Regions from separate parts of the Homo sapiens genome. Here region 1 is linked to region 2. Evidence: fine-mapped expression QTL. A gene starts in region 2. The other region holds a variant in brackets. All regions are shown on one strand. Distances are between the middles of the regions. Region 1 overlaps TMIGD1 (transmembrane and immunoglobulin domain containing 1). Region 2 holds the start of BLMH (bleomycin hydrolase).

What was found. PIP is the estimated chance that this variant, and not a neighbour inherited with it, causes the effect.
Region 1: its variant is the best candidate, but not a certain one, in a credible set for the expression of BLMH in Th17 cells (Schmiedel 2018, PIP 0.58).

The regions. Positions count from the first base shown.
Region 1 is chr17:30,324,764-30,330,145 of GRCh38, reverse strand. TMIGD1 (transmembrane and immunoglobulin domain containing 1) reads left to right here. Exons shown (of 7, transcript NM_206832.3): 3 at 617-895; 4 at 5,052-5,330. Among named protein-coding and RNA genes, the nearest start is that of TMIGD1, 6.6 kb to the left of the region's middle. The variant T/C (reference allele first, on the strand shown) is at 3,430.
Region 2 is chr17:30,288,748-30,294,129 of GRCh38, reverse strand. BLMH (bleomycin hydrolase) reads left to right here and starts at 2,186. Exons shown (of 12, transcript NM_000386.4): 1 at 2,186-2,323; 2 at 2,622-2,819; 3 at 4,648-4,757. The coding sequence starts at 2,311. RefSeq lists silencers at 1,776-2,185, 2,386-2,455 and an enhancer at 2,906-2,965.

The DNA of each region.
Region 1 (5,382 bases), 36 kb before region 2:
GCACTCATGTCAACTAATCAGATGTCTGGGGATGAGAATCAGGCATCAGTACTTTTTTTTGGGGGCAAGGTCTTGCTCTATCACCCAGACTGGAGTTCAATGGTGCGATCTTGGCTCACTGCAACCTCCACCTCCTGGGCTCAAGCGAGTCTCCCACCTTATCCTCCCAAGTAGCTAAAAGTATGGGTGCACACCACCATGCCTGGCTAATGTTTTTTTTTTTATTTTTTTATTTTTTGTAGAGACGGAGTCTCACTATGTTACCCAGGCTGATCTTGAACTCCTGAGCTCAAGCGATCCTCCCGCCTCTACCTCCCAAAGCCCTGGGATTATAGGCACAGCACCCAGCTACATCAGTACTTTTTAAAAGATCCCCTGGTGATTCCAATGTGCACAAAAATTTGATGACCACATTTTAATCTTTTTCTTTTTCAGTTAACAATACATTATGAATATTTTTCATTATAAAATCATATAGATCAATATGACTATTTTTAATCGTTGAGAGTTTATTTTGTTCTACTGATGTAACATAACTTATTTAACCAATCCCCTGTTCATGAGCATTAAGGTTGTTTACTCTGTATATCTAAATAGTTTCTCCCTATACTCCCAGGTTCTGTTTTAACTGTGAATGGTAAAACTGAGAACTATATCCTGGATACTACACCTGGCTCCCAAGCATCTCTGATATGTGCTGTTCAAAACCACACCAGAGAGGAAGAACTGCTCTGGTACCGAGAGGAGGGGAGAGTGGATTTGAAATCTGGAAACAAAATCAATTCCAGCTCTGTCTGTGTCTCTTCCATCAGTGAAAATGACAACGGAATCAGCTTTACCTGCAGGCTGGGGAGGGATCAGTCCGTGTCCGTTTCGGTGGTGCTGAATGTTACTTGTGAGTGAGGGGAAAAGAAACAGCTAGTGGGTCTGTAATGTCTGTAACACATGAAGTGGTAGTTGAAATCTAGGTCTTGGTATTGCCAAATTGCCCAATTTATGCTCCTACCACAAAGTATGAGAGTACCTATTTCCCCTCACCCTCATGAGCACTGAGTATCGCCAAACTCTGAGAATTTGCCAGCCTCCTTTGAAATTTTCTTTTCCTTTTCTTTTTTTTCTTTTCTCTTTTCTTTTCTTTTTTCTTTTTCTTTTTTCTTTCTTTCTTTTTTTTTTTTTTGAGACAGAGTCTCGCTCTGTTGCCCAGGCTGGAGTGCAGTTCAGTGGCGCAATCTCGGCTCACTGCAACCTCCACCTCCCGGGTTCAAGCGATTCTCCTGCCTCAGCCTCCTGGGTAGCTGGGACTGCAGGTGCCCACTACCATGCCCAGCTAATTTTTAATTTTTGTATTTTTAGTAGAGACGGGGGGTTCACCATGTTGGCCAGGCTGGTCTCAAGCTCCTAACCTCGAGTGAACCGCCTACCTCAGCCTCTCAAACTGCTGGGATTACAGGTGTGAGCCACTGCACCCAGCCTGTTTTCATTTTTTAAATTAAGAATGAGGGTGTTCACCTTTGTGTAAACATAATGGTCTTTTTTTTGTTTGTTTCCATGAAATGCCTGCTTGTATCCTTAACTCATTTTTTTCCGTTGGGTTTTATGCTTTTTTCTCATTAATCTGTACAAGGGCTTTGTAGATTAAGGAAATTAGTCCTTTGTCATTTTGAATTGTAAGTATTTCTCCTATTTGTTTTTGAAAATTTTTATTGTTCTTTTTTGCCATATTGAAATTTTAAATGTTTATATATTTAAAGCTTCAAGTCTTTTCCTTTGTAGTTCCTAGCTTTTGTGTTCTGCTTAGACAGATTTTCATGGCCTGGCACAGTGGCTCATGTGTGTAATCCCAACACTTTGGGAGGCAGAGGCAAATGGATCACTTAAGATCAGGAGTTCGAGACCAGCCTGACCAACAATGGTGAAACCTGGCCTCTACTAAAAATACAAAAATTGGCCAGGTGCGGTGGTAGGCACCTGTAATCTCAGCTACTCAGGAGGCTGAGGCAGGAGAATTGCTTGAACTCAAGAAGCAGAGGTTGCAATGAGCTGAGATGCCACCACTGCACTCCAGCCTGGGCAACAGTGTGAGACCCATCTCAAAAAAAAAAAAAAAAGATTTTCATTAGGGAATCTTTAAACATCACCTTAAAATCAAAAAAGGTGAAGCTTTTCAATGATTGGGTTCCAGGTATTGGTAACCCATTGGTAGAACTGTATAGGCTTAGGGGACTGTCAAGTGATACAATGTAGATGATCACATGGGTTGTTGGGTGAAAAGCTGGTTCTGCATGAGAATGGTGTGGATGGTATGGCAATGGGTGAGGTATAATGATGCAGTATGATTTGGTAGAAAGACCCTATCTCTACAAACATAACATAGTGAGACCCTATTTCTACCAAAAAAAAAAATAAGGTGTGTTTTTAATTAGCTGGGCATGGTGGCACACATCTGTAGCCCCAGCTGCTCGGGAGGCTGAGGCTACAGGATCTTCTGAGCCCAGAAGTTTGAGGCTTCAGCGAGCTGTGATTGCGCCACTGCATTTCAACCTGGGCAACAGAGTGAGACCCTGTCTCAAAAAAAATAAAATAAAATAAAATAAAATAAAAAGCCAGCTAAGGAAACTAAGGCCCGGACTAGGGGCTCAAATCATAGGTGCAGCTGAGAATAAAACACTAATTCCCAAGCTTCTAACCTAGTGCTTAAGTGCTTATTCCACGAAACTTTTTTTTTTTTTGAGACAGGGTCTCACTCTGTCACCTACACTGGAGTGCAGTGGCACAATCTCAGCTCACTATAACCTCTGCCTCCCAGGCTCAAGTGATCTGCCTGCCTCAGCCTTCCAAGTAGCTGGGACTACAGGCGTGCACCACCAGGCCGAGCTGATTTTTGTATTTTTTGTAGAGACGGGGTTTTGCTATGTTGCCCAGGCTGATGGAACCCTCTTAAGGGAGACATGGCAGAAATGCCAACAATGTGATTTGATGACTTAAAGAAATTGTTTTCAGTTTTCTAGCCTCAATCCACTGTTTAAATTCTGTTTATAACAATCTCCTAAATATCATTGTTGCTAAGTGTGTGTGTGTGTGTGTGTGTGTGTGTGTGTGTATAGTTAATTGCTCAGTAATCCATAATGACAGTACTGACACAAAGTCATCAACCAATAAATCAAAATGAGCTCATAAAATGTGACAAGGATATTATGTACCCTTCAAAGGCAGGACCATTATTGTTATAAATAGCAGAATCAAGAACTAAATGGAAGCTTGATAATACACTGTTTGGGGGAGAATGTGGAGAAACAGGTCCTCTCATACCTCGTTGCTGAAAGTTTAAATTGAGAACACCTCTTTCAAAATACTTATCAAAATTTAAAGTGTGCATATCTTACGACACACCATTTCTCCTTCTAGATGTTAACGTTGGAGAAATACATG[T/C]ACAGGATCATAAAGAGATATGTACAAGGATGTTTATTGTAGCATTGTTTAACATTTTAAAATGAAAACAACCTAAAGCCCATCAAAACACAAATGATTAAAGGCATACATTATACTATAGCATTCTAAAAGCAATAAGCTAGATCTCTGTGGTTCAATATAAACATATCTCAAAAACATGCAAGTTACTGAGAGAAAGGAAGTATTTTATGTAAAACCTTCCCATGTCCCTAAAATAATATGATATATTTCCTATGGGTACACTATATGTATAGAAAACTATTTAAGAAAAAAGAAAGATAGGGAAGGATTTACACCAAACTCATAACAGTGGGTATCTCTGGGGATCAGGAAGTGACCAGCTTGGATCTTAGCTTTATCTAAAATGTACTAATTTTTACAGAGGGGATATTCACATATACTGATATGCTTAAATTAATTTCAAATAGTTAAATAGAAAGAAATCACTAACAGAATCTGTCCACAAATGGAATTGTTCCATTTGGCAATTATGTTCTCTATTCCAGCAGCTTCCTTCCTATCTGAATACCATATAACATCCTTGTTGGATATGATACAGAATTCGAGCTCATTCCAAAGAGCAACAAAATGTCATTCTTCTGAGAGAGTTATTAATAACACAGCCTACTCAGGGTCTAATTATTCAGTGTGCAGATTATACAAGCTCCTTTTTCCTCCTTCTCCGTCTCTATCTTTTTCCTAGTTCCCACTCTCCAACCATTTCATTACTATTCTGCACTTCTGCCAGAATATGCACAGTGATAGATGTGTTGACTGTCTATGGGTCTACAACTGCCCTTATTGTAGAGGAAAAAAGGAGTTGCTCACACACAGGGATGAGAGGGACTCACTTGCCTTCCACAGATGCCAGAGTTCTCATGCTTAGAACACCTTCTGGGAGGAGGACATTATTTCTAGAGCACCACTGAGAAAACGCAAAGATGCATTGGTGAATATGTTACCAAGGCAATGGTTCGATAAAATGCAAAAACAGACGGTGAGAGTAACCCTCAAAACCACCACCACCGTAATAATAATAGCGGCTAGCACTGTGGCAAATTCTTTACAGGGATTATTTTATTTAATCTTTACAGCATCTCAGGAGATGTATGATTATCCCATTTTTTTTTTACATGAGAAACAGAGGCCTTAGCAGTTAGTTAACTGTCTCAAAGTCACAGTAAACGGTGTAGATGGAATTAGATCTAATTGCAATGTATGTCTTCTTAATTTTGTACTGTTTTGTGCAACACTAGCACAGGTTGGTTTATTAATTCTCAGAGAAGAAAGACTCAAGGCTTATACTCTTGGGTAGTGTTACAAATTGTCTGCTTGTCATAGATCATTACTATATATATCATGCTCATAATCATATATTGTTTCATGGTTTGTCTTCTTCATCACATTAAAAGTTCTATGAGATTTGGAACTGGAAGTGTTATTTGCCCTTGTTACCCCAGTGCTTGTCACACCGTACGTATTTAATAAATTTTTGTCAAATGAATAAATGACCACATGAGATAGATTGAAGGAAGACTTTGAACTCTGACAGTGAACTATTGCTTATCTGCTAATTAAATCTAAATGCTTGAGTCTTGCAGTTCCTCCTCTCCTAAGTGGAAACGACTTCCAAACAGTTGAGGAAGGCAGTAATGTGAAGTTGGTTTGCAATGTGAAAGCCAACCCCCAGGCTCAAATGATGTGGTACAAAAACAGTAGTCTCCTCGATTTAGAGAAAAGCCGTCACCAAATCCAACAGACAAGTGAGTCTTTTCAGCTGTCAATCACCAAAGTCGAGAAGCCTGACAACGGAACCTACAGTTGTATTGCAAAGTCATCTCTGAAAACGGAGAGCTTGGACTTTCACCTGATTGTTAAAGGTAATGCTCTTTTTAAGTAATACCCAGCACAGTGCAAAACTCACACCAGATG
Region 2 (5,382 bases):
CCTGAACTTCTCTTCCTGGGTGTCCTGTGGGGCATCCTAATTTTGCTATGGCCCAAACTCAGTTCAGATCTGCACACTTGCAAATATGCAAATATGCCTATTTTTCTGTATGCCCTCTCTTGGTTAATGACACCACCTTCCATCTTCTTATTCCGCTGAAAACTTCAAGATTATCAATGCCTCTTCCCTTTCCGCAATGTAAGGCTTTTGTCCTCTCCCAAGTTCACTACTGGAAGAACCTTCTAACCAGTTTCCCTATCTCCAGAGCCCCTCCCCTCCAAATTACTCTCCCCACTGCCACCAGGTTTCTTTTTTTACACAGACTTGAGCATATTTTTCCTTTGTTTCAAAACCCATTTTGTCTTCTAATTAACCATAAGATAAAGTCCAGATGCTCAGGCATTGAACATAAAACCCTTTATATCTTGGCCCAAACCTACAAAACTTTTCCAGTCCTACACCTTGCCTCTGCTCCCAAAACATGCCTTGCTCTTAGCCACATCCGATTATGATGCACCCTTTCTTGAACATGATTTTATTCACTGCGCCTTCGCTGGTGCCTTGAATGCCCTTCTCCTGTTCTTTGACTTGTAAAAATCTCATCCACTCTTCAAGATCATGCTCTCTTGTCACTTCTATTTTCAGGCACCCTTTGGCCCTAATTGACAGTGCTCTCCTCATTGCTTCTACAGTCTACAGCACTATTGGTATGCTACTACAGATAGTCTAAAAGTTGTTTTGCATCTCTTTCCTACTACATTGAGTTTCTTAACGGCAAGATTAAGCTTTGTTCGTCTCTATGTCATCAGCAGTTTGTCCAGTGCCTAGTACATGTTAGATACTGAATAAAAATTTATGACTTGAATTGGGCAGGATGCTTGAACATCATTTTGTGAAAGGACCAGTGATTTCTTTCTGTATAATTTTCAGCCTCTTCTTTTTCAGATATTGAAAGAACCTCAGAATAGGATGGTTGATGGGCCCACTTAAGATAGTTGCTATGTTATAGCCCCAATTTTTAGCCGAGTCTCTCTAGGGACATAGAAACCGTGCTTTCTCAAATGACTGATTGGTGCCTGAGTATGGATTTTTCCAGATATCAGAGTTCCTTAGAACTGCGATGATTTTCAATCTAAGAAGACCTAGATTCTAGGTTACACACACACACACTCAACCTCATCGTTTTGAATAGCAGATACAGGGTTTCAGTGTTTTTGTTTTACTCTCTGTGGGTTCTATCCCAGCATCTTACTAAGGGCTGAGATTTCAGGGCATGAAACACGGAATCAACAAAAACAAGGTTTTTACAATCTCAAAACTTTGGGAAACTGTTGAGTTATCTTGAAAGCCTAGAGGGGGAGCATCAGTTAGTTTTGTAGAGAACTCGGCGAAACAATATTGATGCATACGGCTAGCCTCTGTCATCCTCCTGAGTTAAACCCAACGGGACATGCTGGACTATACAGGAGCCACTCGTGGACTCCGTGAAGACCAGATGGGTAGTGTTCTTGAAATGAGCAGATGTCTATTTGTAGAACTCTGGTAGTAGCTTTGGAGTGGGTGGGGAAGAGCTTGGTTCCCATTCCCCCTCAAAGACAATTATTTGCTTCTGATGAGAATCCAAGCAACAAGTTGCCATTGAGAATGCAGTGATTGGTCAGCAAACGAAGCCTATAGGAAGAGCCTTCGGGTGCATTCCTTGTGACATATCGACCCGTCCTAAGCCCGACGCTTAATTATGGGACCTCTCAGCTCCTCCCTCCCGCCTCGAGCTCCCTTTTGGCTTCTCACAAGGCTTCCTGGGGACGATTCCCCGATGCTAGAGTACTGGGGGTCTGGGCCCACAGGGAACCCGTCAGCCTCCCTCCTTGGAGCGGGCCTGATCCCGGGAGGGCGCCCGCGCGGCCCGGAGGCGGGAACCTAGGGGGAGAAGGCGCCGGCGCCGCCCTGGCGCGCAGACCATCTGTGCGGTCCTGCGCGGGGGCAGGCGCGGCCTCAGCCCCCGGGCGCTGGCGGACCCAGCGCGTCAGCTAGGCCGCCCCCGTCGGCCCTCCCCCGGGCGGGGCCAGCCCCGACGGCGCTGACTCAGCAACGCGAGGGGGGAGTTTTGTCCCTCCGCGGACCCCGTTTCTCCCAGCCTCAGCCTCCCCGCCGCCGCCGCCGCCGCCGCCGCCGAGCCGGTTTCCTTTTTCCGGCGCTCCGGGTGCGAGAGACAGGTCGGGCCCCCTAGGCAGCGAGCCGCAGCGCAATCCCGGCGCTCGCCCAAGGACCCTGGAAGCTACCGTTACCCCGCCGGGCAGCGTGGGCGCCATGAGCAGCTCGGGTGAGGTGCCGCCGTCCCCCGCCGCGGTCCTCTGGAGGAGCTCCGCGGTCCCCGTGAGGCCCGGCGGCGGGGAAGGCCGGGGGCTGGGACCCTTGGCGATGGCGGGGAGGGAGCTTTCGGGGCAGGCTGGATCGGCCTGGAGGGAGACAGCTCCTTGGAGGAGGATGCCGCTTATGGGTTTCCCCGCTGCAGCGGGCACCCCAGGATGCGCTTACGAAGTTAGATTCGGGACGCGGGAGCCCCAGATCAGCCCTTTCCCCCTCTTTTTGCGTTAAAATCCTGTTTGGTCTCCCAACAGGACTGAATTCGGAGAAGGTAGCTGCTCTGATACAGAAACTGAATTCCGACCCCCAGTTCGTACTTGCCCAGAATGTCGGGACCACCCACGACCTGCTGGACATCTGTCTGAAGCGGGCCACGGTGCAGCGCGCGCAGCATGTGTTCCAGCACGCCGTGCCCCAGGAGGGCAAGCCAATCACCAACCAGAAGAGCTCAGGTGTGGGCTTCCACTTCTCCCATACGTTCCTTGACCTTCCTGACAGCGTCCCATTTTGGTGTCTTATTTAAGAGTGGTCTTAAATTCGTACTGAAAGAACTGGTCGTAAATTCGTAAAGAATGAGGCACAGGTACAGGCAGGTCTAAGAACATTACCCATGTGGTTTGTTTTGCTGTTCTGTGGCTTGTTAGTACATGCGGTTAGAGTACAAAAGTGACATGTCCATGAGTATACGTTTGAGTGTAATTGACTATATTATGTTCCAATGCTGTGTGGTTTGTAGCCCGTGTCTTGGAGATGTATGGTCTTGGTCACAAAACAGAACATGTGAAAATGTTCATATCTTTGGAGGACTCCCCAGAAATGCCCTGAAGGCCCTATACTATGAAATAGAAAAGATACAATGTAATTACATTAAAATGTCATCAGATGTTACTTTTAAATATGCTTCTTGGTTACAACTGAAGCTAATGTGCTGATGGGCTCAGTTCCCACCAGTAGATCAGTTTGTAATACAGAAAAAAGTTCTGTTCTCATGCCTTGCTGGTCAAGAAGTCTCGTTTTGCTATCTGCTTTCTAGCACCACTCTCAGAAAAAACAGGTATAGTGAAAGATTGGATATCCAGCAATCTAAATAAGGAGCACATTCTCACAACAAAATTGTACTAAACGGATTTTTTAAAGTCTTTCTATACTTAAAAACGACCCCCCAGTCTATCTATACGGACAGGAAGCACATCAGTGCTTGTTTAGAGTCGGTTAGAACTCACAAAGCACACATTTAACGTGAGTACATTTTATTGTATGTACATTATACCTGAATAAAGTTGATTTTTTAAATGTTAAGGAAAAAGTCAAGACCTTACAATAATTAATGTTTTGCTTTAGAAGAAAGTGCTTGGAGTGGTGTGGGCTCTCAGGCTACAGATGATCCAGTTAGTAATGTCACAGTGGTCCTACATAGTTTAGATTGCAGTGACCCGTTAGGGAACAGGTCAGGTCTTACACATTTTGCAGTGTCACTTTTACATACAAAAGATCCAAATAGCATGTGAGTTGTGTAGTTTATTTTCATGCAGTTTTCACATCACCAGTGCATCCAGATCCCCTCTACTAGAAATATATAGCATATAGAAGAGAGGTGACATACAGGTAAATGTAAGGTAAAGACGAACTAATAGGCACTAGTGACTTTCATAAAACACTATAGTTAACTAGAGTTTTCTTCTTGTTACAAAATTATTTTTGTTTAATGTAGAATATTTGTAAATACCAAGTAAATATTTTTCTTGTATATTTGTCAAGTTTTGTGTGTGTGTGTGTGTTTAATAGTGTTTAATATGCATTGATACCTTATACATTGTTATGTAAGCTACCTATCTTTTTCACTTACCAATATATTATAAACATATTTTCATATTAGTAAAAAGGTTATACCCAATACAAGTCAAAGTTTTTCCCTCAGAATTTTCCCTCAGAAAAGAGATAATTTCCCTGTATTTAAGACCTTAAAAGACTTTTCTAATGGCGCTCTCAGTTAATTTATTTTGAAGTAGAGTACAATTTGGAGAAGGCATTACTCTGAAAAATGGATTCTTTATTTGATACGTAAAGAGTGTTTTTGTGTTAAAGATATTAAACCTTTGCATATATATTGCTAATAATAATTACCACCTTTCTTGTTTTGTTTTTAATCTTTCTGCTCTTTCTGATTTACTCTTTCTGAATTGTCCAGATCGTGTCATGAGTTCATTGGTGGGAAATACAGTTGGAGCAGTGCAGTCTATGTGAACCCTCATAATTTCTTGATGTGCTTTCTTGTTTCAGGGCGATGCTGGATCTTTTCTTGTCTGAATGTTATGAGGCTTCCATTCATGAAAAAGTTAAATATTGAAGAATTTGAGTTTAGCCAATCTTACCTGTTTTTTTGGGACAAGGTATGGGACAGATCTGGCAAGATTCTTTTTGTATTGATATCAGCCTTGGTAGGGACTGCCTCTTCTTTTGTAGCTTTTCCAGTTATAGCCTGCCCTTTCATAATAGGTGAGACACCTTTTATTCTGACTTCCAGAGTATCAAAAGTTGACTCTTTCAAAGGCAGAACTGTTTTTGGTTGGTAGGTGGCCATTTTTTTGCAATGAAATAAGTTTACTGACTCATCTTACTGCTTGCTTGTCTATTTAAAATTTTAAATTTTATATTCAATATTCAATTCAATATATCTCCCTTTTTAACATCTTTTTAGGTTATTTGTTCTTTTCTAGGACCTAATTTCCCTCTCAAGAACTTGTCTGAAAAACAGTAAATAATTTTATTTGATTGTTTATTTGTTTATTTATTTTTTTGAGACAGTCTCACCCTGCCACCCGGGCTAGAGGGCTGTGGCACAGTCTCGGCTCACTGTAACCTCTGCCTCCTGGGTTCAAGCCATCCTCTCAACTCAGCCTCCCAAGTAGCTGGAATCACAGGCACATGCCACCATGCCCAGCTAATTTTTGTATTTTTAGTAGAGACAGGGCATTTCACCGTGTTGGTCAGACTGGTCTCGAACTCCTGACCTCA